7 separate regions of the Homo sapiens genome follow, and regions 1, 2, 4, 5, 6 and 7 are each linked to region 3. The links come from fine-mapping of genetic effects on gene expression. A gene starts in region 3. Each other region holds a variant in brackets. All regions are shown on one strand. Distances are between the middles of the regions. Region 1 overlaps OSBPL5 (oxysterol binding protein like 5). Region 2 overlaps OSBPL5 (oxysterol binding protein like 5). Region 3 holds the start of OSBPL5 (oxysterol binding protein like 5). Region 4 overlaps OSBPL5 (oxysterol binding protein like 5). Region 5 has its middle 32 kb from the start of ZNF195. Region 6 overlaps OSBPL5 (oxysterol binding protein like 5). Region 7 has its middle 30 kb from the start of MRGPRE.

The links.
Region 1: its variant is fine-mapped to the expression of OSBPL5 in tibial nerve (GTEx, PIP 0.98).
Region 2: its variant is fine-mapped to the expression of OSBPL5 in monocytes (TOPMed, PIP above 0.99).
Region 4: its variant is fine-mapped to the expression of OSBPL5 in whole blood (TOPMed, PIP above 0.99).
Region 5: its variant is fine-mapped to the expression of OSBPL5 in left ventricle (GTEx, PIP 0.96).
Region 6: its variant is fine-mapped to the expression of OSBPL5 in whole blood (INTERVAL, PIP 0.99).
Region 7: its variant is fine-mapped to the expression of OSBPL5 in whole blood (INTERVAL, PIP above 0.99).

Annotation. Positions count from the first base shown.
Region 1 is chr11:3,085,777-3,089,841 of GRCh38, reverse strand. It overlaps OSBPL5 (oxysterol binding protein like 5), which reads left to right. Exons shown (of 22, transcript NM_020896.4): 22 at 1,499-2,735. The coding sequence ends at 1,637. Among named protein-coding and RNA genes, the nearest start is that of CARS1, 30 kb to the right of the region's middle. The variant C/AGCCAGGGAGCC (reference allele first, on the strand shown) is at 2,042.
Region 2 is chr11:3,111,699-3,115,763 of GRCh38, reverse strand. All of the region lies in intron 7 of OSBPL5 (oxysterol binding protein like 5), which reads left to right. Among named protein-coding and RNA genes, the nearest start is that of OSBPL5, 52 kb to the left of the region's middle. The variant C/T (reference allele first, on the strand shown) is at 2,455.
Region 3 is chr11:3,163,755-3,167,819 of GRCh38, reverse strand. OSBPL5 (oxysterol binding protein like 5) reads left to right here and starts at 2,510. Exons shown (of 22, transcript NM_020896.4): 1 at 2,510-2,604. RefSeq lists enhancers at 1,316-2,028, 3,772-4,065.
Region 4 is chr11:3,136,862-3,140,926 of GRCh38, reverse strand. All of the region lies in intron 1 of OSBPL5 (oxysterol binding protein like 5), which reads left to right. Among named protein-coding and RNA genes, the nearest start is that of OSBPL5, 26 kb to the left of the region's middle. RefSeq lists an enhancer at 3,996-4,065. The variant G/TG (reference allele first, on the strand shown) is at 1,630.
Region 5 is chr11:3,345,394-3,349,458 of GRCh38, reverse strand. It overlaps the pseudogene VN1R56P. Among named protein-coding and RNA genes, the nearest start is that of ZNF195, 32 kb to the left of the region's middle. The variant A/C (reference allele first, on the strand shown) is at 2,338.
Region 6 is chr11:3,128,280-3,132,344 of GRCh38, reverse strand. OSBPL5 (oxysterol binding protein like 5) reads left to right here. Exons shown (of 22, transcript NM_020896.4): 2 at 3,176-3,332. The coding sequence starts at 3,197. Among named protein-coding and RNA genes, the nearest start is that of OSBPL5, 35 kb to the left of the region's middle. The variant C/T (reference allele first, on the strand shown) is at 1,954.
Region 7 is chr11:3,260,438-3,264,502 of GRCh38, reverse strand. No RefSeq gene overlaps it. Among named protein-coding and RNA genes, the nearest start is that of MRGPRE, 30 kb to the right of the region's middle. The variant C/T (reference allele first, on the strand shown) is at 1,747.

The sequences.
Region 1 (4,065 bases), 78 kb after region 3:
GCCACACTCAGGGTGTCCATCCAGACTCCGGGTCAGAGAGTGCGAGAGACCTGGTAGAGCTAGGGCGGGAGGTGGGGAGGCCAGGAGGCCGCGGCTGGGGTTGTCATCGGAGCTGGAACCCACAAGACCTGCAGGGTGATGAAAGGAAGACAACCGCCGAGGGCAGGAGAGAGGGTGTGGGAGCGGCAGGTGGTGCGGGATGATCAACCAGCCAAGTTGGCCATGCCTGGCAGATACTGAGCTGGAGATGTCCTGAAGCCTAGAGGAAGGTGCCAGCCCAGCATGGCCTGGGGTAGCCCCAGGAGAGACCTTGAGGTGTGCAGAGCGAGGTGGCAGCCTGGGCTCACTGTGGTGGCCCCATACCTGCGCACAGTGGCTTCTCAGGAATGGCTGGGGAAGGAGCAAATGGGAGTGGCCGAGAGCTGGCAGGTGCAGGCCACCAGGGCCACATGGCCCCTTCCTGTCAGCAGATCCCACCAATGAGGAGCAGAGCACAGGGTCCCTCTCGGGTCCAAAGCTCCTGACTCTGAGCCAGGCTGAGGGTCTCACTGGCTGTGGGACCTTGGCTGTCACACCTCAGCCTCCCCTCTGTAAAGTGGGCTTGATAGCAGTACCCCAGGGTGAAATGCAGCCAGGGCACAGGCCCGGGCTCTGTGAGGCTCAAGAGCCTTGGGGAACTGTCATTGTCCCTGTGTAAGCATTTCCAGAAGGTGCTCCCTGGTGAGGCTGTGTGGGCAGAGAAGCAGGGAGGCCTGGCTCCCCAGAAGCAGGTCAGCTGTCAGGCAGGTGGCCAGGACTCAGCCAGAAGCTTCTGCAGCAAACTGGATACCGCCTCAGAGGCCAGGTCCTCCACGGCAAAGTACTCCAGCTCAGGGCCAGGGCCTCCACAGCAGAGTACTGCCGGCAAGGGGCTCGGACAGCGCGTCTACTCCCTCGCGGTCCCGGAGGCTGGAGTCCAAGATCTCGGTGCCACAGGGCTGGTTTATCCCGAGACCTCTCTCCTGCCTGGCAGACGCCAGCTTCTCGCTGTGTCTGTGTCTTCATCTCTTCTTCATATAAGGACACCAGTCCCATGGGACCAGGGCCCACCCTAATGGTCTCCATTTAAATAAATACCTCTTTAAGGACCCCATCTCCAAATACAGTCTTATCTAAGGTGCAAGGGGTTAGGACTCCAACATATGAAGGTGGCAGAGGCATGACTCAGCCATAACCACAGGGGTGGGAGGGAGGATGTAAAAGGCTGACTCCCCAATCCCTGACCCTCCTCTGCCCTGAATGTGCCCAGGGAATCCCAGTATAGCCATGGTGCTGTGGGGCCCTCCCACTAACAAGCTTTCCACCCCCACCCGCTCTGTTGCCCCTGGAGGGCCATCCCATCTCCACCTCGGCCCTGTGTCCAGCACCTGGTCAAGTACCCAGGGCACTGTCCTGGCTTGTGGGAGGGGGACTTGCTGGCATTGGCACAGCCCCCACGATCTGTCGCCTGTCCTTGCAGGCACCTCTCGGCCATGCTGAGCTCCACGGCACGGGCAGCACAGGCACCGACCCCAGGCCTCCTGCAGAGCCCCCGATCCTGGTTCCTGCTCTGCGTGTTCCTGGCGTGTCAGCTGTTCATTAACCACATCCTCAAATAGGAGCCCTGAGGGCAGAGCTCCTGGCCGGTCCTGAGCCCTCCCTCCCAGGCACCCAGCACTTTAAGCCTGCTCCATGGAGGCAGAGAGGCCCGGCAAGCACAGCCACTGTGACGGGGAGTCCAGGCGCAGGAGGGACCCGGGGCCACAAGGCGCTGCGGGCCCAGGTGTGCTGGGCCCCTCTCAGGGGCACTGGCCTCTCTGCAGGGCCTTCCGCCCAGCGCTGGCCTTAATGCTAAAGCCAAATGCAGCTTCTGCTGTGCGACGCACTCCTGGCCATCTTGCCGTGTCACCCCCTGTCCGGCCTCCACTTGCCATGGGGGATGGATGGATTTAGGGTGGGAGGGCCTGTGGGGGCCCTGGACAGTCACACCCCAGCAGCAGTGAGTGGGCAGGTTTGGAGGAGC[C/AGCCAGGGAGCC]CCGAGTGGCCCAGGAGTCCCCCCACACACAGATGCATAGGCCTGCCTTCCGGAGACCCTGTCCACATTGCCGGGACCACCCTGGTGGGGCCACTGGTGGGTGCCAGGGACAGGTTAGGGCCACTCTGGGGAAGGCATTTTGGTTTTTTATTCCACGCTGTGCTGTTTGGATGGGAGCCCCACAGAGGCAGGTCCTGGAACCACCCCACCCCCACACCTGGACGCTCGCTCTGGTGGGGGCACACGCAGGTGGAGGTGGTTGTGGGTGCAGGTGTGTGCAGGGGTGTGGGGGGCGCAGGGGTGTGGCTTAGCTGGCCCCGCACCCAGGCCGGGGAGGCTCAAGTTCGCCACTTTACTCAGACCGATGCACAGTCTTCCCATTTTACACTTTTTTAATAAACATAATTGCAATATTTTAGGTGGGCTGCGAGCTGCAGTCAGCCTTCACGTCTGGCCTCAGTCCCCGTGTCAGTGCCGCTCTGCGTGTGCGTGTGCGCGTGTGTGAGCCTCTACACATATATATACGTACAGAGCCTTAAACCACATCGTGGCGGTGCCGTCTGAGCTGTAGCGGGTGGCTTTGTTTCCAGTTTTTGTACCCGTGTCCTTGTCTCCCCTCCTCCCCCATCTGGGGATGTGTCTGTGTTCCACACCTTGAAATAAACAGACACATACGTGTTCTCTTCTTGCGGGACTTCTGGAAACGAGAGGAGGGCTTCCCAGGAAGACTCAAGGCCAGCATGGAGCTGTGTGGGGCTGGGTGGAGGGGCCCGGGAGGGAGGAGGGTGCAGAGTTCACAGGGAGCTGTGGGCAGCCTGCCCGCCCTGTGGAGCAAATGCTGGGAGGCTGGCGTCCCATCACCCAATGAGCCAGTGGGGGACACAGAGTGACACTGCCCACAGGCACTCCAGGCACCTCAGAGGCTGCTGGGGGGCATTGGCACAGCCCCTGAGGCCAATGCTGCCAGTTACTGAAGGGGACCCCCCCTGGCTGGACCACCTGGCCCGCTGCCCCTTGCTTCGGTTCCACTGTGGCCACCACCCCTGGTACTCAGACACCAAGGCCAGTGAGTGGGCCTGCTCAGGGTGCCCCTGAAGGCGGGGTGGGGGCACCTGACCACAGGCCTCAAGTGACAGCAGAGGGAGACTGCAGCCCACCCCTCACAGCAACCAGAGGACAAGGGTGATGAAAGGGAGGGCAGCCAGGCAGCACCCAGGAGAGGGGGACACGAGGGGCCTCGGGTCACCACCTCCCTTCTGCACCTCCCCACCTCGACCCCCAAGGCCCCAGGAGAGGAGGGGCTGTGGCTGGGGTGGAGGGAGAGGCAGGGGGTCCTGCCCCCCAGCTCCTCTGAGGAGCCTCATGTCCGCCTCAGACAGCCAGGACTCCCAAGACCCCCCCGAACCACCTGGAGGATGGGGCGGGGGGCCCTGCCTGGCTCCAGTGCCCCTCTGTGGAGGCCACACACCATGGGGCAAACATGAGCTCAGAGTGTGAGCCCTGGGGGTGACAGCCTTCTGCATCTTGATGGCGGGGCAGGCTGTTCCAGACACCCCGCCTGGGACCCCTATCTTGCCTCCTGCACCCCAGGCCCACGCGGAGCAAACGTGCTCAGCCAGGTGCCCTGCCCAGAGACAGCCTACCCAGGGGTCTGCCTCCCACCAGCTCCAGCTCACCACAGGGCAGGCCCTCCACCTGCACCCCAGCACCTTCACACACACAGGGGCAAGAATGGAATCCCCTCCAGAATTCTCCCTCTATCTTACTAAGAACTGTTTATTTTTTAACTTATTTTTGAGACAAGGTCTCACTCTGCCACCCGGGCTGGAGTGCTGTAGTCTGATCGAAGCTCACTGCAGCCTCGACCTCCCAGGCTCAAGCAATCCTCCTGCCTCAGCCTCCAGAATAGCTGGGACTACAGACACACACCACCATGTCTAGCTCATTTTTTTTTAGAGACAGGAGTCTGACTATGTTGCCCAGGGTCATAAACTCCTGGCCTCAAGCGGTCCTCCTGCCTTGGC
Region 2 (4,065 bases), 52 kb after region 3:
TTCATCTTGATCATAAGATATAACTTCCATAAGCCTTTATAACCTTTATTAAGGAGTCAGTTATTGTTTCAAGAAAACCTTGTTAATCTGACACAGGGGCCCATATGCTAGTCTTGCATCAGTGTGCCTTTGACATTAATGATTAATTTATAGAGGAACTGAACTTACTTTATCTCTCAAAGTCAGCCCTTACAATCTCACATGTCTATCTCTTCTGGGATAGTCTCTGGGCCTTGAGGAGTTGAACAGCTTTAATTTCTGTGTCTCAGGAATGTGGTTTATTTTGATTGGCATCTTCTACCGGGCCTGAAGATGAAGCTTTAATTGCTGTCAGTGTTTAAAATTTAGCAGGACTTGGTGTTCTTTTTAGACCCATGAGTCAAATCCCTGTAACTCAATGTCGCAAGGACTTTAAAAGCACATACAAGAAGATATAAGGACGGAATAACCTTGATTTAAAAAAAATTTTAATATCTGTTTTTCCTAAGCAAACCAAACTTAATAATAATGGCATAGGAATTATTTTGATAAAACATAAAATCTGTTAGGCCACTTACCAAAAGGCAAAAGCAAATACCTTCTGCAGTGTATAGAATATTATGTTAGAAGAAAACATTTTCTTTAAGAAAACATTGTTAGCATCAGGCCACACACACACAAAAAAACAGAACCTGAGGAGGAAAACAAAACTTATATGAGCTGAAAATGAGTTGAAGGGAAGTGTTACTATTTTGTTCCTTTTAAGAGGGAAGAGAAAACTGAAACTGGCAAGATGCAATGAAAGTTGAACTTTGGGTTAAAATTAAAAAATTAAAATATCTTATAATTGATTAAGAGTAAATCAACCTCTTAAGAAAATGTCGGCCAGGTGCGGTGGCTCATGCCTGTAATCCCAGCACTTTTGGGAGGCCGAGGCAGGAGGATCACGAAGTCAGGAGATCAAGACCATCCTGGCTAACATGGTGAAACCCCATCTCTACTAAAAATACAAAAAAAAATTAGCCAGGCGTGGTGGCGGGCGCCTGTAGTCCCAGCTACTCAGGAGGCTGGGGCAGGAGAATGGCGTGAACCCAGGAGGTGGAGCTTGCAGTGAGCCAAGATCACGCCACTGCACTCCAGCCTGGGCAACAGAGCGAGACTCTGTCTAAAAAAAAAAAAAAAAAAAAAAAAAATCATTGTTCTAACCAATTCTTTAGTCTATAACTGTTTTTTTACATCAAACCCAATCTCTAGAAAGACCATTATAATTTCCCTTTAGTCATAGACAACTTGATCATATAAAAGGGTTTTTTTTTAATAGATCCTCTTATTGTGACTTCCATAGACCATTCATGCCACGCTTGGACTTTCTGGTTTGTCCTGAACATCCCTCTTTCTTAAACAACCAGTCATTTTACTCTAGGACTAAATTTACCATACAAGATTCTTTCTCATATGAAATTATTTCTCTTTAAGCTTTCTTACTCTCCACCAAAAAACACTTTTTTATAACTTTCTTTACATCTCTTTTACTCTTTTATTTCCTGGTTCCTTTTACCTTGTTTTATACATGATCTTTAAATAAGCTTTGAATTAGGCAAAAATTGTTCACCTTTTTCAAAAGGACATGCTTTCTTTTAGAAAGCATATTTTCCTACAAATATATTTTTATTGGAAAATATCCAAATAGTGAAATATCTTATTTAATCTAACTTTAAATTCTAAATTATGATGAATTTGTCTACAAGTATTTGTCCTATTACATTTACCTAATTATTTTAATCATTTACCTAGATTATTTATAAAAACTGCAATTGTCATTATTTAAATTATGGAAACACCATTGCAAAATTATAACTGAGACAGTGAAAGAGATTTGACCTAACTGACTCCATCTTGTTTCTAACCTTCAAGCTATCCTTGTTCATTCCTGGGCATAGGTCAAACTAACTTTGGGAGGAACTTAGTTTATAGTTTACCTGAAACAAAGACTATAACAGTCTTTCTCAAAATGAACCTTACTGCCTGTGGACTAGACTACCTAAAGCCACCAGATTAGAAGTTATGGTAATCTTACTAAATTTAAGATGTAGCTATTTTTATTAAACCAATATAAATTTTTTTTTTTTTGAGACGGAGTCTTGCTCTAGTCTCCCAGGCTGGAGTGCAGTGGTGCGATCTTGGCTCACTGTTACCTCTGCCTCCCAGGTCAAGCAATTCTCCTGCCTCAGCCTCACGAGTAGCTGGGATTACAGGTGCCTGCCAACACACCTGGCTAATTTTTGTATTTTTAGTAGAGATGGGGTTTCACTATGTTGGCCAGACTGGTCTTGAACTCCTGACTTTGTGATCCACCCACCTCAGCCTCCCAAAGTGCTGAGATTACAGGCATTATTAAAGATTACACAAGCAAAGATCATTCTGTCTTGGGCTGGGTTTATAGTTTCGTAACTCCTATGCCAAATTTTGACACCT[C/T]ATGGTATTTGGCAGGGATAAGTATGAAATTGCTTGATTAATAAATGCAAACAAAAATATATGCTGGCAATTCTTAAGACATTTCTAATATTACTTTACCAATAATTTTAAAGCTAGCTTATTTATTAAAGATTTTATTTAAGTTACATAAACTTGAAAAAGCATTTGACTTGTCTTTTCTTTTTTCCTGATCAAGTATTTGATTCAAGTGCATTTACTTTCTTAAGCCAATCAATTAGAGCCCTTTTATATATTTTCAGTAGTGAAACATTGTGTACACGACACATAAATACATAGACATATTAGGCATGGCAATAGAAGTACATCTCATAGGTTTATAAAAATTTTTTTTTCCTGTCTTAGACTTTCAGATTCTTGATAACCTGTTTCACAACCCTAGGCAATTGTCAGCTAAATAGCCTTAAATTTGCATATTAAGGGAAACAACTCAGGTGAAAATCAAATAGCAAAATTTGCATAAGGTACAGAGAGAAAAAGTCTGGTGGTGCTAGAGGGAGACTAAAGATGGATGCCAAATCAAACAAAATTATAGAAATCTATCATAGGATTGCATAAGGAGACCAATTTTATGTAGTAGGGACTACCTATCATTTAACTGGATCTCTGAGCTCTGGGAAGAGCCCACACTGAATCCTAGGTCTCCAGAAAGGGAGAATTATCATGAGGTTAGACCACGTGATGCTTTTATAGTGCACTTACAAATTTTTTTTAAACAAAGACATTTCTAAGTGTCTAAACCACACTCTTCCTTAAAAGCCCAAGAGTAACCACTGTTGCAATAACTACTTTAGTCAAAAAAAAAAAAAAAAAGAAAAGAAAACACAAAACAGGTTACACAATACAAAAGTAAGCAGTTTAAGAGCTGAGACAAACTTGTCTGTTTACATTCTTGGGGTTTCATAAGAAAAAACAAGTTTCTCCCCCAAGGGGAGTCTGGCACCCTCTCCATTTTCTTTAAGGAACCCCAGGCTACTATAAACTATTTTAGGTCCCCCATGCGGCAGAAGGTGCAAGAGAAAGGAGAGACAGCAGAAGTAAATCAAGAAACAGAATTCAGTCAACTGAGAAGAAAAAACCCTTTTGCTCAAAAAAAGACAAGGTCCTAGGAGAAAAACAAAAACAGAAACATGAAGGTCTCTTAAATACAAACACACACATATGCGCACACACACACATGCACACACACATATGCACACACACATGCACACACACATGCACACACACATACACATGCACACACATGCGCGCACACATACACACACATGCACACACATGCGCGCACACACACACACATGCACACACATGCGCGCACACATATGCACACACACACACACAGCTTGGATGTTAGCTTTTCATTAAACTGACTTTTAACCATTGAGCTTCTTTGAAAAAATCTTTTTAAATCTCATTCCATATTTCAACTAGGACAAATTTCAACGAGGACACAGAAGTACAGTCATTACTCTTTCAGTTTGGCCTAGCTAGTGAAAATGTGGCCTTGTTATATGAATAAAGCCCCTTAGTAGTCAAAATCAAAATCTTTCCTCTTTTTTTTTTCCTTTTGCTGGCCGTTTTTCTCCCCCCATCACG
Region 3 (4,065 bases):
GCCCCTAGCAGAGAACTGCCATTCTGGAGACTTGGATTGGAACTGCCCTGATTTTAAATTGCACTGTCCTTGCAAAGCATTTTTTAAGTTCTTACTTATCACAGACATATTTTTCTGAATTACCATAAATTCCAAACTAACCAGCTGGGCGCTGCAAGCCGTTCCTTCCCATAGTCCACTCATGGTCCCCAGTGCCCACCAACAGCCAGCGCTTGCAAAGTCTGTTGGCCCACTGGGGACTTATGGCAGCTCATGCAGCGGAAACTGCTCTGGTCATCGCCATTTATAGATGAGGAAACTGAGGCACGGCCAGTTGCACAAACCTGCTCAAGGGCTCCTGGATGGTGGGGCCTACTGGGCGTGCCCCCCTAAAGCTGGTGCCATTGGCACCTGGCTCTGCCCATCTCTGAGACCTCTGACGCCTTCATTTCCTGCGTTGGCCACCAGGCACAGATGCTGTGTCCATCTGACAGGAGAGGAAGCGGGGTCCCAGGAGGAACAAGCCACTGCCTGGTGACAGAGCTTCTTTCTGGCAGCAGCAGGATTCGGACCTACCTCTTGCTGGGGGCAACCTCTTCGGCTCACTGCCTCTCCAAAACCAGGCAAGAGGCTGGAAATGGGGCTTTCTGGAAAAATGCAGAGCCTGCTGGGAAGTGGGGCAGACAACTGACACCTGTCACTGAGCCTGGCAGGTGGCGTGTTCTTCATTTCTTGCATGGCCATCTGGCTGTCAGACACTACCCAGTGAGAGGCTCAACCCTCGTCCTGCTCCACCCCAGCCCCACCCTGCTGTCATCTATGGCCCCTTCCCCCACCCTCAGGTGCCTCTTTGACTTTTGACCTCTGCCCTCAGCAGTGTCATTTCATGAAACCCAGGCCCTGGACAGCCAGCATCAAGCAACTGGCAACCTTCCCTACTGCCGCCCCTGAGACCTCCGCCCTAGGGATAGGGGCTTTGTTTTCTTCCCTAATTCCCTTTGGATTGGCTCCAGCAACCAGCAAGTTACCAGGCAGCAGCACCTCAGCTTTGGGCGGAGTCTTCAAAGAGCAGACCCAGCAGTTGTATGTGGATCCCAGCTGCACAGACCCTCTCCTGCAGAGGCAGAGGCCGCCTGCCACAGGCCACGCGGAGCAGGGTCCCACCATGGCCCTGAGCATCTTGACTGAGCAGTTCTGCATCCCAAGGCCTCACAAGGTGACTATGGAATGGCAATGCTAGCCCTGGGGGTAAGCTTAGGGCAAGTCCGATCAGCCCACTCGCCTCCGTAAGCCGTGGGTTCCTGTGATCCGCACACAAGCGGCTGGTGCTGCTATCCCCAGGAGGATACCCACCAACTTGTCTAACGGGGTGGGCAAGGCCAGGGCTGAGACGGGAAGGGGTCTGGCTTGTTGTGGGCAGAGCACCTGCATGCTGTGCCGTTCCCCCTTCAGGTGCTGGAAGGAGCCTTCCTGGGCCGCTCGCCCTCCGCAGCCCTGCTGGGAGGTCTTGCAGACGCCCATGATAGCCAGGCTTGCGGCCTCCCGAATGCAACTGCAGCGTGAAACCGTAGAAACACACGTGTCAGTGGCAGTTCTGCCTGGGGAGGAGCCCAGGGCTCTCTGCGGAGGGTCAGTTCTGTCCCTGTTAAGGTTCTGTGTGGAAAAGACTCCACGCCCTCTTGGGGTCTACCTACATCTGGGGATGCCCGAGCCCAGCTCCCAGTTTTTCTGGTCATTTGGGGACATACCATAGGAAGGACCTGCAGTGCACCTCAGGCTTGGACACTAGGGATGCAAACGCCCTGGGGCCAGCCCTGGGCCCACACCCAATTTAGGGTCTACAGGCAGGGAGCCAGGGGCCAGGGGAGGACTTCTCAGCTCCCAAGGGGATGCTGTTTAGGGGAATTAGAATGTCTTTTATATACAAGAGAACTGAGGGGTCTAAAAAGGTCTCTGGGGGGTAGAAGAAGGTGAGGAGAAAACACAGGAAGAAATGCACATGAGGGGAGGTTCTTGTCAAAAGGGTCCTGAGAAAGACGTACAGTTAGAGTGTGACTGAGGGTCCTTCTTAGCACATAAGGGGCAGGGACAACGGGCTCAGATGTCTGGGGCTCCTCTTGTGTTCTGATGGCTCCTGAGACGGGGAGAAACGGCGACAGTTTCCTGGGTTCAGGAAGGGAGAGGAGGCGCCTCGCACCCTGGCTAGGGTGGGCTGGGGGCCTGCACCCCTAAGTTGGAGAACCCCACGAAGCTGACCCCACTCACCGCTGCCCACCCCGCCAAGCCTCCTGGCCATTTTCAGCGGAGTGTCCCGACCTCTGGCCGCCCGGGTGGGTGTGAGCCCCGGAGCGCGCGCGGGGGGTTGGGGGATGAGGAGAAGCGGCAGCCGGTGGGGGGCAGCCCCTGGGCGCCCGCTCCGCGCGGCGATTCGGCCCGGGTTTTGCGGCCGCCGCGCCTCCTCCTCCCGCCTCCGGGCTCCCTGGGCCTCCTCCCTCCGCCGCGCCCTCGCTCCGCCTCGCGCGGGGGGACCATCTGCTGGCATTTCCTGCAGCCAGGCCCGCGCCGCCAGTGGAGCCCCCGCGCGCCCGGCCGGCCCGGAGCACCGAGCTCGCGGCACGGTAGGAGGTAGGAGCGCGGCGGCCCGGGGGGCGGCAGGGCGGCGGGGGGATGGCGGGCTGGGAAGGATCCGGAGGGCCCCGCCGGGCAGGGCCGGAGCGAACCGAGGGCCGCGGGGGGCCGGCCGAAGGGATCCAGGAGCTCGCGCCGCAGCCCCGCGGACCCTGGCAGTAGCCAGTGCGGGGAACCACGCCGCGGGGCCGGTCGCGCGCTGGGGAGCTGGGGAGCGCGGGAGCCTGGGGGCGCCCCGGGCCAGGACGGGTCGGCGCCTGGCGGGTTGGGGCGGGTGGGGCCCGCGAGTGGGAAGCGGCGCGCCCAGCTCGGCTCCCCACTTGGTGGGGCTTAAAGGAGCCGGGACCGCCAGGGAAGGTGGCTGGGTCTGACCACCACAAACCCTGGCCAATCAGGGGGTCTGTCCCCCCAGCTCGGCCGACGCGGGCTCCAAGGAGCCAGGTCTTGATGGGTCTGCAGGGGGTCTGGGATCTGAGTCTGGCGTCCCAGCTGCGGGCTTGGGAGGACTGCTGTGTCTGAGTCCGCAGAGTCAGGGGGCTGCCTGGATTACAGGCTAGGGAAGGACCTTGCCCACAGCCCCCATCTCTGGGGCACTGACCCCCTGAAGATGTGGAGCCTTAGGGATTGTTGAGGTGCCTGAGTCCTCAAGAGGGTCTTGTGCACTTGAAGATTCCTCCCGGGGAGCGGGGTGCAGGAGGGTGGGGCAGGCAGGAAGGAGGCTGGAGTCTGCAGCCCCCCGGGCAACAGGCCCGTCCTGGGCTTCCCAGGCACCGCCCCCAACCCCCACCCAGACCGCTGGGCTGCCTCCTGTCAGAAGCCAACTGGAGTTAGGGTTTGGGGTGACTCCTGGGGGTATGGAGGGGTCACAGGGTGGGCTTACCTGCCCCTCCCTCGTCCCTGGGCTGAGCCCAGCCCCTCCCTCATCCTTGGGCTGAGCGGGTCTGCCCCGCCGAAGCGGCTGGGTGGATTTCCTCTCTTGCCGTTTCGCAACTTGCTCCCCTCTGTGTGTCTGCCCCAGTCTCTTCAAGGTGCCTTTTACAGGAAGACTTCTGTAAGGGTCCCACCCCACCTGATACAGCCTCCCAAAGCCTGGAGAAGTGGGCCAGCCTTTGGGATCCTAGATAGATGCTCTTGGGTCTGCCTGCACCAGGGCTGATCCAGATCCCAGACTGAACAGAAACTCTGCTCCCCAACCCCAGGAGTAAGGCCCCTCTGCACGTTTTTATCCCACCTCCTTGGTACACAGGGCCTTGCTGTTCCTTGAACCTGCCAGGTGAGTGGGGGCTTTGCAGGCATCGGGCAGGTTTGTGGCAACCTGGGGTGGCATCATGTGCCCAGCTGCTCCCTTCTGGTCTCAGGCTCCAGAACTGCAGATCCTATTGTCTGCCTGCACGCGTGTGGGGCTGGCCTGGGGTGCCAGGAGGCAGGCACCGCGTGTGTCTGTCTTGCCAGGCTGTG
Region 4 (4,065 bases), 27 kb after region 3:
TCACCTGGCCCCAGGGCCCCCTGGGCTGTCACACCCATGGGCTGACCAGAGCACCAGCTGCAGCTCTGCATGGGCGGGTAGGGGTGGGGTAGGCACCTCACCTTGATACACCCAGGGGCAGCCTCAGCTCCTGGACATGAGGGGCCGCCCCAGGTACCCACATACCCCAAGGAGGACTAGGATGGGACGTGTGGGCAGCAGGTGACCTTATGACCTCTCTGGTCTTGGAAACAAGGCTCCTACAGCCAGTCCTGGGTAATGTGAGCTGGGGGACAGAGGGGAGCCGGGACGACGATGCCTGTCCACTGGTGGGGCAGCATGTACTTGGGTGGACAGAGGGCACTGCCTGGGGTCCTGGCTTCCCTCGGTGCCCCTCTCTGCTGGGGGAGGCCCTGCGTGCTCACGGAGTGTTGAAAGTGGGCTACCAGGTCAAGGCCTTGTGTTCCCCCTCAGACTGGGACCCCTGAGTGTCCACACAGGCCTCTCAGGAGGACACGCTGTGCTGGCTTTTCCTGGGCTGCCTTGGCCCTGGGAAGGGTGTCCTAGCTTGGCTGTGAGCCCTACCCTGCCTGTCCAGCACCTGAGGGATACAGGGGAGAGCTTGGCTGTGTGTGTCACTCCTGGGTGGCACCATGCTGGCCCTTCACAGAGAGCATTGCTGTGGGCTGCCCCTTCCAGAGCTGAACTCAGCAGCCTGGCCAGGGAGACACCACTGCAATTATCCCCTCCCTCCTTCTGAGGACTCAACCTCTGTTAATACAGCCCGAGATGGTGGCTGCAATTTGGGGGACCTTGGCCGGGTTCTCCTCTGCAGAGGGAGCTCCTTGGCAGAGGTGCTGCTTGGCGGACCACTGCACACCCCCCTCCCAGGCTGCACAGCCGAGCAGTGGGCCCAGAGCTTGCGATGAATGATCTTGTGAGGCTGGCTTCTCAGAGCAGGGGGGGCACCTCTGCAGGCCTGCCAGGAGCTGCAGGGAAGAGCTCCTGTTGGTGTCCTTGGCCAACCACAGGCCAGGCTGTGAGCGCCCCACCCCACCACCAGCTTCAGCCTCTGCGAGTAAACGCACCCTAGGAGCTTGTGCTCCTTCAGGGCGCGTGGCTGGGCCTCGGGGACTCCAGCAGGGAAGGCTGGCTGCCTGAAGGAAGAGAGGCCGGGGGAAGCAGCACTTGGACCCAGGGTCCAGGAGCCCAGAGAGGGAAGCCGAGAGACAGAGAGAGAGGAGGGGAGGCTGGATGTGCCCTCTGGAAGTGACTCCTCCCCATAGAGCAAGGCAGCAAGGCCTCCCTGGGGCGGGGGCTTGTCCAGAGGCCAGGGGAAGGCCTGCCACCCCCATCCTGCCCCCAAACTCCTGCGGGCAGGGCTGGGTGCCTGGGCTGGTGATTAAAGCCCCCTGCTCACTGGCTTTCCCCAGCTCACTGGAGGCCACTCCTCCCTGCCTTTCCCAGAATGGGCTCAACTCCATCACTGGGGTCTGTCTCCACCTCTGCCCCAGCCTGGTGGCTCTTCCTTCCCCCATCATCCTGGCAGGTTGCTCGTGGCCCCACAGAGCACTGGCAACAGCACAGCCAGCACCTTCAGAGCTGATGCCCCTGGCAGACCCCAGCAGGCTTGGCCACGGCCCCAGCCCC[G/TG]GGGCCACCCGTCCCGCACAGCCTCCTGGTCTCCGCTCACTCAGCTGGCCGGTGGCCACCTGCTCCTCCAGGGCTGGAAGCTTCCACCTCCCTGGCTCTCAGGCCCACTGCCTCATGGTCACCCCAGGGTCCCCTGAACGGGAACAGCTGTGGTGGTGTGTGGGTGGGCAGTGGGGGAGACTGAGGCTGGAGGGTTTTGGGGGAGAGTGTGGGCCTGCTCGCACCCCAGGATCCCCACTCGGTGTCAGCGAAGACCCATCACCCGGTCCCTGCCCTTGGAGCTCAGGTGCCCCTGGAGGGCGGAGACGGACCTCAGTCTTGGCCCACAGCAGCCGCGTCCTCTTTGTTTTGCTCTGGTCTTCTTGTTGGAGTTTTTGCCCACACGCCTGGCTCCAGGCTGCCCTGGAATTAGGAGGATGAGCAGGCTGGGGCCAGATGAGGAGACACAGCCACGTGCTCAGCTTCTCAGCCGCGTGTCCCTAGGCGGCCACAGCCCAGCTGCTTCTCCCTTGGTCCCCCACCTGGGTAGGCAGCGGCCTGCAGGGCCGTCCACTGGGGGTGGCACACCAAGCCCAGGAGCCTCACCAGGAGGGCCAGGCAAGGGGGCACTGGCACCACCCAGAAGAGGCCCCAGGTGTGCCTGAGGGCATTCAGGACAGAGGCCAGCCCCACAGCACGGCAGGCGAGCGTCTTTTCTGGAAGTGAGTGTCCAGGCTCCACTGGGGGCCCAGGTTCATGTCTTATTTCCAGTGTGAATGCTGAGGCTCAGCGTGGCGGGTTTGAGATTGCGTCCACAATCCCAGCAGGCCCCTGCCTCCAGCTGCACTGCCTCCAAGTGACGGCCCCCACTCCCTTACCCCTCCCTCCCCGGCTGACCCCTGCTGCCACCTGGCTGCAGCTAGCATCTGAAAATCGGAGTCTCCTTTCAGTTGGGACAGGTGGGGTGGGTCTAGCTGGGAGGTGGTGGGTCTAGCTGGGAGGTGGTGGGGCCAGGCCTGCCTCAGGGACCACGCCCAGCCCGCCCCCATGCCAGGGCTTCTTAGGGCTGGTGGAGTGATCGACTACAGGGGTGTGGGGTCGGGGTACCAAGGCCAGCTGACCCAGTAGCTGCTCTGAGCCTTCAGTGGGCCTGGTGTCCATCAGGAGGACAGGTGGACAGGGCCGGGGACGGGCTGGCCTGGCCGGGCCCACAGGCACAGGACTTGGCTGAGGCAGCCCGGAGAACACGCAGGCATGGCTCGATGCTGCGTCCTCAGCAGTGCAGGCCACTTCCTGTGCCCCTCTTGAGGTTCAACCACTCCACAGCTGCCTCTGATAAATGTCTCCCCAGAGGGAGGCCTGGCCTCCCCCTCAGCTCCACAGCTATCTCCAAAGTGCAAAGGGGATTTGGGGCTTCAGCTGTGCTCCTTTGAGGGGATCCCAGGCGCAGCCTGGCCCACGAGACCTTAGATGGGCCGTTTCCCCTCTTGGGGTCCCAGTGTGTTTGTGTGTGATGAGGGTGTCACTTTGTCACCCAGGCTGAGTGCAGTGGCATGACCATGGCTCATAGCAGCCTCGACCTCCCAGGCTCAAGCAATCCTCCCACCTCAGCCTCCTGAGTAACTGGGACCACAGGCATGTGCCACCACAACCGGCTGTTTTTATGTTTGTAGAGACAGGGTCTCGCTATGTTGCCCAGGCTGATCTCGATCTCCTAGGCTCAAGCGATCCACCCGCCTCAGGCTCCCAAAGTGTTGGGATTACAGGCTTGTAATCCCAGGTGCAGTACACCCGGCCCACTGCATCTTTAAAATGTGATGATGACCCCTGCTCCCCTGCTCCCCGCACCTTGCGAGCATTCCGAGAATCATATCAGATGGGACAGAACATCCAGGAGGACCTGGGGGCTTTAAGGTCCATCAGTGCAGCAGATGTCCTGGGAAAGCGCATGTCCCAAGCCCCCCAGGGCCCAGCTGCCACAGCTGAAGTGCATGCCACGGCTCTCTGAAGAGGCTGCTGCTCCTGCAGGGGTGGTCAGGCTGCCCACATTAGCACTAGGCATTCGGTCCACCCAGACACAGCAGCCTGGTCTCTTATGCTGCTGTCTGCTCTCAGGGAGTGCATCTGTTGCTGTGGTGGTCTCCCTGGGGTGACTCAGGAGGCCTGCGTGGTTTCCTCACAGCAGGATCTTCATGGTCACTTGCATTGACCTTAGCAAGTTTCTGGAATGCAAACGTATGGTGTTGACATGATGGCTGCTGTCCTTTAACTGATGGCTGCTGTCCTTCCTTGGGACCCACTGACCTCTCCATCCCATGTGCGAAGAGCCAAGCATTTGGGCTTATGTTCCTTTATCCTTGTGATTTTAGAGCATTTCCCCTCCACAGTCTTGAACGAGAATCTATCTGGTTTAGGCAGAAGCATCTGTGCCGGATGTTACTGCTGAAGGCTGGCTGC
Region 5 (4,065 bases), 180 kb before region 3:
AGATAAATCTCTGGAGTCCTGGCAGCTTCTGAATTTAAATATTTGCCTGTGAGTTGGAATGTAAACCTGTTTTCTGTGTTCATAGCGTAGCTAGTGGTGGGACTGTTAATGCCACCTGCGTCTTTAGTATTTTCCATTCCATCAACATGAGTACCAGAAACTCTAGGAGTCCTTGGGTTAAAGGCGCCTGCCCTTTCCTGTGCTCTGTGCTGGGTCCTGCAAGTGCTGTAAAAATACAGAGTTTCTATGCTTATGGCTGACAAAGGGTAGAACAAACACTTCACGAGGCCGGGTGCGGTGGCTCATGCCTGTAATCCCAGCACTTTGGGAGGCCGAGGAGGGTGGATCATTTGAGACTGGGAGTTTGAGACCAGCCTGGCCAACATGGCAAAATCCCCATCTCTACTAAAAATACAAATATTAGCCAGGTGTGGTGGTGCGTGCTTATACGCCCAGTTACTCAGGAGGCTGAGCCACGAGAATCACTTGAACCTGGGAGGCAGAGGTTGCAGTGAGATGAGATTGTGCCACTGCATTCCAGCCTGGGCAACAAAAAACAAAACAAACAAGAGAACAAACCCAAACCTTCACAAAAACTATATATTTTTGATACTGTTTAGCTCAGCTTATGACTAAGAAAGAGACTTCATTATTTGGAACATTGCTAGCCTTCTATAATGTTTATTTATTCTTTTAATTGACATAAAAGTGTATATATCATGTAAAATATGATGTTTTGAGGTATATACGTGTCAAGTGCTTTATTCTAGTTAATTATCATATGCTTTACCCCATATAATTTTTTATGTGGTAAGAACTAAACATTTGACTGTCTTCTCATTTTTAAAAACACAATACATCCTTGTTAAGTATAGTCAACATGCTGTACAATAAATCTCTCAAATTTAGTCATCCTATCTCACTGTAATCATGTCTTAATTTGACAATCAACTCCCCAAACCCTCTGCCCTCCTAAAAACCCCTGCCTCTGGTAACCATAATTCTACTCTCTACTTTAACAGGTGAACTTGTTTAGATGTCACATATGAGAACATATGGTATATTTCCTTCTACACCTGGTTTCTGTAAATTAACATAATGTGTTTCAGGTTCATCCGTGTGATTGGAAATGAAGGGATTTGTCACAGAATTCATGATTTCGGTACATTTGGGGTGATTTTTATATCATGACTATAGTAAATAGTGCTGCAGTAAACATGGGCATGGAAATGTCTCTTCAACACACTGATGTCCTTAAAAATATATATATAAACAGTAGTGTGATTGCTGTAACAAATGGTGGCTCCATTTTTAATTTTTTTGAAATCTTCATTCTGTTTTCCAGAATGGCTGTACCAATATACATTCCCATCAACAATGTGCAAGCCTTCTCTTTCTTCACACCTTTATCAACCCTTGGTTTGTTTTTGTTTTTGTTTTTGTTTTTTTGTCTTTTTATTAATAGTCATTCTGAAAGGAGTGAGTTGGTGTCTCACAGTGGTTTTGATTTGCTTTTCCTGGATAATTATTTATGTTTAGCATTTTCAAATTTATCTATTTGTTATACGTATGTCTTCTGAGAAATGTCTAAGTTTTTTCCTCATTTTTAGTACTTACTTGTTTTCGTTGTACAGCTGAGTCTCTTACATATTTTGGATATTAACCCCTTGTCAGATTTATAATTTTAAAATATTTTTCCATTCCTAGGTTATCATTCCATTGATTGTACGTGGTGCTGTGCAGAAGCTTTTTAGTTTGAAGTAATCTCATTTGTCTACATTTACTTCTATTTCCTGGCATTTGGAGGTTAAATTCAAAAAATAATTGCCCAAACCAATATCGTATTTTCTTTTCCCTTATGTTCTCTTGTAGTAGTTTCAGACTTTCAGATACTACATTCAAGTCTTTATTTCAAGTTGCTTTTTATATGTGGTGTGAGATGTGGGTCTCACTTCTTTGTTCTGTATGTGGATGTCCATTTTTTTCCCCAGCACCATGTATTAAAGAGTTTGTCCTTTAACCATTGTACGTTCTTGTCACCTCAGTTAGCTGTAAATGCATGGATTTATTTCTGGGATCTCTATTCTGCTCTATTGGCCTATGTGTCTTTTTATGCCAGTACCATACAGTTTTGCTTATTGTGGCTTTGTAGTATATTTCAAAGGCAGATTCTGTGATGCCTTCAGCTTTGCCCTTTTTTTATACTCAATTATTTTGACTATTGATGGTTTTCTTTTGTGGGACAAGATGAATTGGGGTATTCCTTTTGTATGTGGAGAATGTCACTGGTAGTTTGATAGGGATTGCATTACACCTGTAGATCATTTTATGTAAGAT[A/C]GACATTTTCACAATATTAATTCTACCAATTTGTGAATAAAGAATATCTTTCTTTTTATTTGTGTTTTACTTAATTTAATTTCTTTTATTTCAAGCAGAGTCTTCCTTTGTGAGGCTGACGTAATCCTCCCACCTCAGCCTTCTGAGTAGCTGGGACCAGAGCTGCATGCCACCATGCCTGGCTAACTTTTAAAATTTTGTAGAGATGAGGTCTCTGTTTTGCCCAGCCCAGGTCGGGGAGCGGAGGGATGTTGGAAGAAAACGGGCACCTCCAGGAATGTCCACTGTGAGGCACCACCCACCAGGGCCGGGGATTGGTGGAGAGGGAGGATAAAGCCCCAGGGTTGCTGACGCAGCTCCCAGACAGGAGCTGGTTTGGTGGAAACCAGAGCCCTGGTCTCCCTCCAACTGCTCCGGAGCCTCCCGCTACTCTACCCCATGCGTCCTGCTGCTCTGCTGATCGACTGTCCCACTGACCTGTAGCTGAACCTCCCACCAGGGCTTGAGGACTTAGTTTGAACTGGTTCCTTTCCCAGACCCCTTTCTCCTCCACCTCCTCCTCCTCCAGGTGCCCAACAGCCCCCCTTCAGTCCCCTCCCCTCCTCTCCTCTCCCTTCCCTTCCCCAACTGCGATCCCATCCCCATCCCCATCCCTATCCCCTTCCCTCCCCCAGCCCTAAGCCACCCCCACCTGTGCCCTGGCCACCTCAGGGCGCCCTGAGAGGACCAGGACATGCGGCTGCGGTGGCTGCTCTTTTGGTTCCTCGTGCTGGGGTTTCCCAGCCATCAGTCCAGCCACGTGAGTACACTATGGACCCGCGGGGTTCCTTCCTTTTCGTTGGGCTGTCACGGGGCATGAAATAACACAGCTCACGCCCATAATCCCAGCACTTTCGGGGCCCAAGGTGGGCAGATCGCTTGAGTCCAGGAATCTGAGACCAGCCTGGGCATCATAGCAAAACCCCATCTCTACAAAAAATTCAAACAATTAGACGTGGCAGCGAGCGCCTGTAGTCCCAGCTACTTGAGAGGCTGAGGTGGGACGATCGCTTGGCCCCAGGAGGTGAGGGTTGCAGTGAGCCAGGATCGCCCCACTGCACTACAGCCTTGTCAACAGAGTGAGACCTTGTCTCATACAAAACGAAGTGAAATGTCATTTGAGTTCTGTGTCATCTGGTTTGATGACTTTCTAGGAACTTCTGAGTCATCTGTGTCTTCTGCTCTTGGGAGCTGCCTCCAGGGAGTCCGTGTCCAATCAGAGTGATGGGGCCCCAGAAGCCCATCGGATGGGAGAGAAAAGAACTGCACCCTGCTGGGATGTTTGCAATGCGGAGTCACCAGGAGTGACATGACCAGGATGTGAATGAGGACTCTATTGTCCTTTGTTCTGTAAAACGTGTCTTGTGCAGATGGTTGATTTACCCAAAGCAGAAAGGGTCTTAAAGTCCTTATAATTGTCCAAATGGAAAGAAATCACAGGTTTCTACTTTGAAAGGTTTCACCCTCACATTATAAAACCTCTCCACTATGCTCAGGAGAGGGCATCTTATAGAGATGAGGGTATTTGTTCTGAGTGGCATGCACCAGATTCTCAGAGAGGGAGCTGGAGAAGCCCAGTGATGGGGAGCAACCACTGCGTCAAGGCAGACTCACCCCACATGAGTGCCTCCAACTCCAATCAAAGAAGAGTCTCTTGATTCTTTTGAGTCTATGAAGGAGGAAGTGTCT
Region 6 (4,065 bases), 35 kb after region 3:
GTGATGAGAGCTGCCGCCCACCCTGTCTGAGCGGGTCAGAGGTGGTCTGCAGGGCCCGGGGCACTGGACACTGGTCTGGGGTTGTTGGCACACAGAGTGATAGTCCCTGGTACACACCTGTATTGCATTTGGATTGGTGAGTGTCTGTTCCATATCAGTGTTTCAGACATTATTTGAATACCACCTCAGATGTGTCTGAGTGTGAGGTGAATGGGAAGGAAGGTGGAATCAGGCAGGTCAGCTGACTGGCTGGAGAGCTTCAAGGAGGGATAGAGGGGTGGCAGGTGGGTGAATGGATGGATGGATGGATGGATGGATGGATGGATGGATGGATGCCTGAAAGGGAGGGAGGGTGGGTGGATGGGTGGGTGGATGGATGGATGGATGGATGGATGGATGGATGGATGGATGGATGGACAGGAGGATGGATGGATGCCTGAAAGGGAGGGAGGGTGGGTGGATGGGTGGATGGATGGATGGATGGATGGTTTGGTGGGTGGATGGATAGATGAGTGGGTAGATGGATGGATGGATGGATGAATGAATGGGTAGGTGGATGGATGGATGGATGGATGGGAAGATGGTGGATGGATGGATGGATGCCTGGGAGGATGGATGGATGGATGGATGGATGGATGGATGGATAGATGAATGGGTGGGTGGGTGGATGGATGGATGGGAGGACAGTAGATGGATGGATGAATAGACGGGTGGATGAATAGACAGATGGATGAATGGGTGGATGGATGGATGAATGGGTGGATGGATGGATGGATGGATGAATGAATGGGTGGGTGGATGGATGGATGGATGGATGAATGGGTGGATGGATGGATAGATGGGAGGATGGTAGATGGATGGATGGATGGACGAATGGGTGGATGGATGAATGGGTAGATGGATGGATGGATGGATTGATGGATAGATGGGATGACAGTAGATGGATGGATGGATGGATGGATGAATGGGTGGGTGGGTGGATGGATGGATGGATGGATGCCTGGAAGGGAGATGTATGTATGTATAGATGGAGGGATACAAGGGAGCGGGAGACTGGTGTATAGATGAGACTGGTGTATAGATGAGTGGATGGTGGCACTCACAGACTAAGAAGTCCCACTGGCTGTCATTGGTGCTGGGAGAAGGTATGTGGGGTATCTGAGCAGAAAGGTACCAAGATCCCCTATGGCCTTTCTACCTTGGCCCAGGTGGAACTGGAGCAGACAGCCAGACAGGGCAGCTGAGGCTAGGTTTTGAGCCCCTCTCCCTGCCCCAGGAGGTTCCAAGTGAGGGAGACCTACCTGGGAATCGCTGTCACCACACTGCCTGGGACATTCCGGGGCTCTCTGTGGGTCCTGAGAGCAGGATCGCTGCTCACTTACCTTGGCTGCCTGGTGCCCAGCCCAGCCTGGGTGCTCAGAAAATCTCAGCTGTCTGAGTAAGCCCGGCCTCCGCTCAGCTGCTGGTTCCCATCCTGAGCTGCACCTGGGCAAGTAGGACGTGTTTGTTGTGATTGACAAGTAGGGGCAGGACTTCCCATCTGCCTGCTTCCCTGCGGCAGGTTGGCTGAGCCAAGCTGAGACACTGAGTGGGCAGACACTCAGCGGCTGGGTTTTAGGATCGGTTCCACCTGGCTTAAGGACGGCATTGCTGATTGTTAGCTCTGTGACCTGGGCCAAAACGCCAGCCTCTCTGAAGCCAGCTGCCCTGTGTGTAAGATGGCCAAGGTCATGAGCCGAGCCAGGGGCCAGGTGAGGGAGGGGCTGGCCCAGCCTGGCTGCATCCTTGGAGCCCCTCCCCACTCTGACTTCAGGACTGGGGGCACAGAGGGGGCTCTGGGGTGGTGGACAGAAGCCCCCAGGACCACAGACACCCTGGGCCCCCAGCCCACTCCTGAAGCCACAGCAGGAAAGTCTCTGTGTGTCTGAGGCCCCCCCCAGCAAAGCCCAGGAC[C/T]ATGGGAGAAATCGAGGCCTTTGTCCCGGGCTTGGCAGGATGCCACTGGCCTGCCCTGAGGCAGCAGGAAGCAGCCCCAGAAAATTGGGAAAGGAGGAAAATTGACCAGTAGTTTTTAAGGAGCTCGCCCTTGGGAAGTGGACACAAGATGAGAAGCTGGAGGGGATGCTCTGCCAACCCTTGTCAGGTCACGATTACAGGTCGAGGCCTTCCACTCCCTGAGCCATGATTTTCTCATCTGTAAAATGGGCTGAGACCTCAGTGGATCTGGCGCCGTCAACTTCAAGTGCCTGCAAAGGCGTGACTGCAATCAGTTACCCTCTGCTTGGCCCAGCACTACTAGGTGTAGGGCTGGTGGGGAGCAGGACAGAGGGGACCGCCTGTTGTCCTCTCTCCTTCCAGGGGAGGAAACAAGAAACTCGCTTCTGAACCCACAGGGGAAAGGCAGGTCTGCCAGTGGGCGGGGCTGGGAGAGCGAGGCAGGTGGGTGTCAGGGCCTGGCTGTGGGGCCTCCCTCTTTTGTGAAGCAGCAAGGAAGCTCCCACTGGGAATGCAACGTCTTGGGCTGGGCGTGGACGCAGGTGTGCCTGGCTGTGAGCGCCCAGAGCTCCCTCTCTTGCTGGGGTGCATGTGGGTGCAACTGAAACTGTTGGGGCACCCAAGCTTCAGGCGGGCTTAACCAGAGGCGAGGCGCTCCTGGGACCCTTAGATGGATGGCAGGCCAGGCTCCCGGACTGCCCAACACCGTGCCAGCCACTCCCTGGTGCTCAGCGGCCACCTGGTCTCACCCCCGTGCATCTTCTCCATGGAAGCTCTAGACCCCTCCCCACCACAAAGTGCTGTCACGTGGGAGGGAAATGCGGGAGGGAAAACCTGTGTCTACACGTGGGTCTGCCTGGCTGCAGCCAGGGTCTCACAGAACCTGGGGTGGGGGTTCTGAGAAGGACATCTTCCGAGGGTGGTGATGAGCCTCTCTGACCAGGGCTCCGTCCAGCCCTACTGCCCGGCGTGGAAAGGGCTGGCACCAGCCAAAGCCATTCGCCTGAGCTGGGCTGTCCTGGCTGACCACCCACCACCAGGCTCCCAGGGCCCAGGCCCTCCTCACCCTGCCTCAGAAGTCCCCTGAGAGGGGGACTTCTTAGCCAGGGGCACCCCCACCATGTGGCTCTGAAGCCCCTTCCGGGGCGGTGACCTCCTGCTGCCCCTCCTTCCTTCCTTCCAGAAGCCCCCGAGCGCCCACAGCATGAAGGAGGAGGCCTTCCTCCGGCGCCGCTTCTCCCTGTGTCCACCTTCCTCCACCCCTCAGAAAGTCGACCCCCGGAAGCTCACCCGGAACTTGCTCCTCAGCGGAGACAATGAGCTCTACCCACTCAGCCCAGGTAAGTGCCGGCCGTGGGCAGGGCAACCTGGCCCTCAGCTTGGGCCCGGTGGGGTGACCCCGGGCGGCCCAACCCCTCTGTGCCCCTTGAGGTCCACAGCTTCCATGCTGGGGACTGTGTGGGTTTCATGATCAAACGGTTTGTAGCTTGGTAGAGTGCCAGGTAATACGGCTTCTTGGCTTGACCTGCGGGGCCAGGTGAAGCCCATCTGGTTGAGGAGGGGGTTCCCACAGCCCAGGCTTTGGGAGTTATGGAGTGCAGTCATCCCAAAGTCAGCCCAGGCTTTGGGAGTTATGGAGTGCAGGCTCCAGGGACAGGTGGCCTGAGCCCCAGTCCTGGCAGGGTAACCCCAGGCCAGCTACTTGACCTCTCTAGGCCTCAGTTGACTGATCTATAAAATGGGACAATATTAGTACCTACTCCCAGCTATACATGGGTCCTGGGCTCTGAGAGGGGACAGCTGGAACCAGGCCTGCCTTCGTGCAATTGTAGATAAAGCACCCAGCACACAGACTCAGAACCTCTGCCCGCCAATGCTGCCACTCTCCAGGCCCCTCCCTGGCACCTAACTATGCACAACCCCTGCCCCAGCCAAGGCTGAGCTGTGACTGCTGTCCCCCAGAAAACCCAGCCCTTCCTCCCCTGTTCCCCTGAGAGTAGGAGGTAGGGGCAGGCACCTGCCTGGGGGACCTCTCCCCAGCTCTGCCCCCTCTCCTCCCACTGCCTGCTTTGG
Region 7 (4,065 bases), 97 kb before region 3:
TATGTTTATTGTAGCACTATTCACAATAGCAAAGACTTGGGACCAACCAAAATACCCATCAATGATAGACTGGATAAAGAAAATGTGGCACATCTACACCATGGAATACTATGCAGCCATAAAAAAGGATGAGTTCATGTCCTTTGCAGGGACATGGATGAAGCTGGAAACCATCACTCTCAGCAAACTAACACAGGAACAGAAGACTAAACACATGTTCTCACTCATAAGTGGGAGTCGAACAATGAGAACACATGGACACAGGGAGGGAAACATCACATGCTGGGCCCTGTCAGGGGGTGGGGGGCTAGGGGAGGGATAGCATTAGGAGAAATACCTAATGTAGATGATGGGTTGATGGGTGCAGCAAACTACCATGGCGCATGTATACCCATGTAACAAACTTGCACATTCTCCACATGTAGCCCAGAACTTAAAGTATAATAATAATAATTTTAAAAAGAGGAAATTAGGGCAGAGACAGGCACAGAGGGCCCCCTGATAGTGTCCTCTACCTTGAATCGCCTCTTCAGATGCAGTCATGTTCTGAGGGCCTGAGGGTCGAGGCTGCAATGGCAGAATTTGGAGGGGACCGTCAGCCCCTCTCACAGCCCTCCTCCTTTTCTGACTTTTACAATAGCTTTCTGTGCTTATCTGCTTGTACACTTTGGGGTTTGGGGTGAAATCATGTTTGGGAAAAGCTTTGCTTCATCACAAAGGTCTGGAAACCCTGAGATGGACTGAGGCTCTGCCTCTCCATCAGCTTGGGCTTGGAGCTTCCCTTTGCAGACCCCATGTGGACAGGAGCTGGTGGCTCCAGGACCCAGTGGCTCCAGGACCCAGTCTACAGCCACGGTCTATGGAGGCGGCTCTTCAGTGGGGCTGAGGCCCCCAGGGTGTGTCCCTCCGTGAAGTGTCCAGGCATCAGCAACCCCCTGCCCTCCCAGCCAGCCAGAGCAAAAAGCTTCTTGGTTTCCCCTTAAGCCAGAGAAGAAGGCTGTTTCCACTCAGCAGTACTGTGGCTCTTCATGGCTCTTCCAAAACCATGTCCTGTCTCCTGAAGCCCAAGTCAGGAAGAGCAGGGGTTTAAGAAGGCCTGACTCACTCTGCAACCAAGCTTGTCCTGCAGTTTGCTGGGTGCTGGAGGCCTACGTGGGCTCTGCTTCTGGGATGTCCTCCCAAGCCACAGTGGGAACAGGACCTGGCTGTGGGAGCTGGGATCCATGGAGGACACGTCCTGCCTGTCTAGAAGCTGAATCTCATGTTGTGATGTCCTATTCTGGCCCACAGAAAAACAGGCTGACTCAAATAAGGATATTGAAACAGTCTCCCAAATCTTCCCACTTCAATAGCTTAAGTTGGGCTGGTTGGGGCTGAATTGGCCAGTGGTTTAGGCAGAGCACATAACAGAACTTTCATGACTGTTATCTCATTTTACTGAGTGACCATAAGAAAGGGGAGATGAAACATGTACGAATCTCTTGTAACGTTTGTAATTTACCCCTCTCCTGAAGGACACGGCTCCTTTTCTCAGAAACGTATTATATTATCCTACAGAGCAGAGGAAGACATTTTCTCAGCAACAAAGAGAACTGGGGCAGGAGTGAATCTGAAGAAGACGGGAAAAGCAGTATCAGGATTCAGTTCTTAAGACTTCAGGAATAACTGCAGAGTTAAACTGAACACGACTACCCGGGGCTGTTTGATGCACTTTGCCTTGGACTCTGGGGCAACTTCCCTCCTGCT[C/T]CCTCTGTCTTCACATGACTAATGGAGAAGGGAAGGAGGTGGAGAGGCTGCAGGGCACAGTGGGGAAAAAGCTTCCTGCTATCACGAAGCACAGACGATAACAACAGCTAACTCCACGGGACAGCCACCTTGGCATTTTCAGACATGGTAGCGTTCTCCCCCAGGGCCCTGTGGCAGATGGGTGGCTAATTCCTCAGGACATACACACTGAAGAAACACAGAATCTGCCTCAAAGCCCGGACTCCCAGCTCTTCAGGAGTAAGATCTCTACCCTCCTCGCTGTGCAGTTTCCACAAAACCATCGGCAGTGAGGAGACTTCAAAATCACCCTTGTAGAAAGAAATTAATTAATTTAAGATAAATTAAAATAAAAAAACAAAATCACCCTCATGTCAATTCCAGCACTATAGCAGGAAGCTCTCAGAGTCTTATTGAGAAATTTCTTTCTAACTTGTAAGAAACATCCTTATCCATCCAAACCCAAAGAATGGACTCAGGGACACAGAGAACAGAAGAAGCGAGACTTTAATGGCAGTCTTGCAAGATTGGGTGTCTGGCATGAGGCACACCCAGAAGGGCTTCAACAAGAAATTTACTCCCTAGTGCACAAGTCCCTCCCCCAGTTCCTCATTGGCTGAGTACTACGAGGTTACAATCTTCCTGGACGTCGAATATTGGTAGTTGGATTAAGTTTTCGAGTATGTTCATTAGGGTCTTTCTGCTGCATTTTATTGCATCCCATAATGCATTGTGACTGTCTCAGGACTCTTCGAACATTTGACGTATGGCCCTAGATGGCTGTGCTTTGCTGATAAGAAAGGATAAAATTATCTATGTTGCAAGCTAGCCTAAACTAAATTCTTCGGTGGGGTGGGGAGGGGGTATTTAAGGGGGCCCTGACCGATAGGCACCTGGCTGCCAAGTGAAAGGAGAAAGCAGGATGGGGGCAGGGGTGGCTCAGTACATTCTGCTTCTTTATCTCTTTATTTCCACATAGCCTGCTTAAACCTATACTAAGACACTTAAAATTAAAAATGGACCACCACATATAGGTTATTTTTTACATAACTGACACCCGGTTTTGAGTATCTTATATTATAATCTGTTTTGCTTGCATTCTAGTAAGTCATTTCCCCAGTAACACGATTGCAGACTCCTTAAAGGGAGAGACATGCCTTATACACAAAACCTGACACAGACAAGGAATTGGTCAATCATTCCAATAGTATTTCTTAATAGCATCATTTTCTTATTTAGTTTGTCTCACAGTTTCTTCTTCATACTTTGTGAAAGAGTGGCTAATCAAATTTCTCTCATAGACTTTATTTATTTATTTATTTATTTATTTATTTTTGAGATGGAGTTTCACTCTTATCACCCAGGCTGGAGTGCAATCGTGCGATCTTGGCTCACGGCAACCTGTATCTCCAGGGCTCAAGCAATTCTCCTGCCTTAGCCTCCCAAGTAGCTGGGATGAGAGGTGCCTGCCACCACGCCCAGCTAAGTTTTGTATTTTTAGTAGAGACGGGATTTCGGCATGTTGGCCCAGCTAGTCTTGAACTCCTGACCTCAGGGGATCCACCTGCCTTGGCCTCCCATAGAGCTGGGATTATAGGCGTGAACCTCTGTGCCCGGCCTCTCTCACAGACTTTAAAAACACATTTGTGTGAAGAATAACATTAGGAGACCATTGTGTAAGCAGGCCTGTGAACTAGGTATCTGCTGTTTAGGAACACTGAAGAAGGCAGTCTAGGGAGAAATGGGTGCCCGTGCATCAGAAGGGAAAAGGGGGCTGGAGAGAAGTTTAGAGGTGGAGACAAAATGGCTTTGTGGCACAAAGGGCAAGGAAAAAAGCGAATTAGGGATGACTCCTGGGTTTATGGTTGAGCTGGTGGTGCATAAGGGATTGGATTTTGTCATGATGAGGTCACTTCTTCCAAGAGCGTCACTGAGTTCAGTTTCTGGGGAATGGAAGGCCAGAGTGGAAATGTCATGATAAAACAAATTGCAAGCCAATTACCCTCCTCTCCCACAGCCAAGCGAATATCTACATTTAACAGGCTTTTTAAAACTTCATCTATGTAGATTCTGAGTAACTGGGAAAAGGAATCTCTTCTGAGGTCCTGATTGTTCTTACAACCTTAACCTGTAATCGCATCTACGCAGCCCACTTTCACTAGCTTATAAAGCAGTTGAATATTCCAGTTGCTTTGAGTCAAAACCCAAAGCAAGATTAGACTTCATCGATACTTCAGGCACGATGGCAACAGGTATTCATCATATTTAAGCTTCCCTTTCTTGTTCCACAGAACTTAAAAA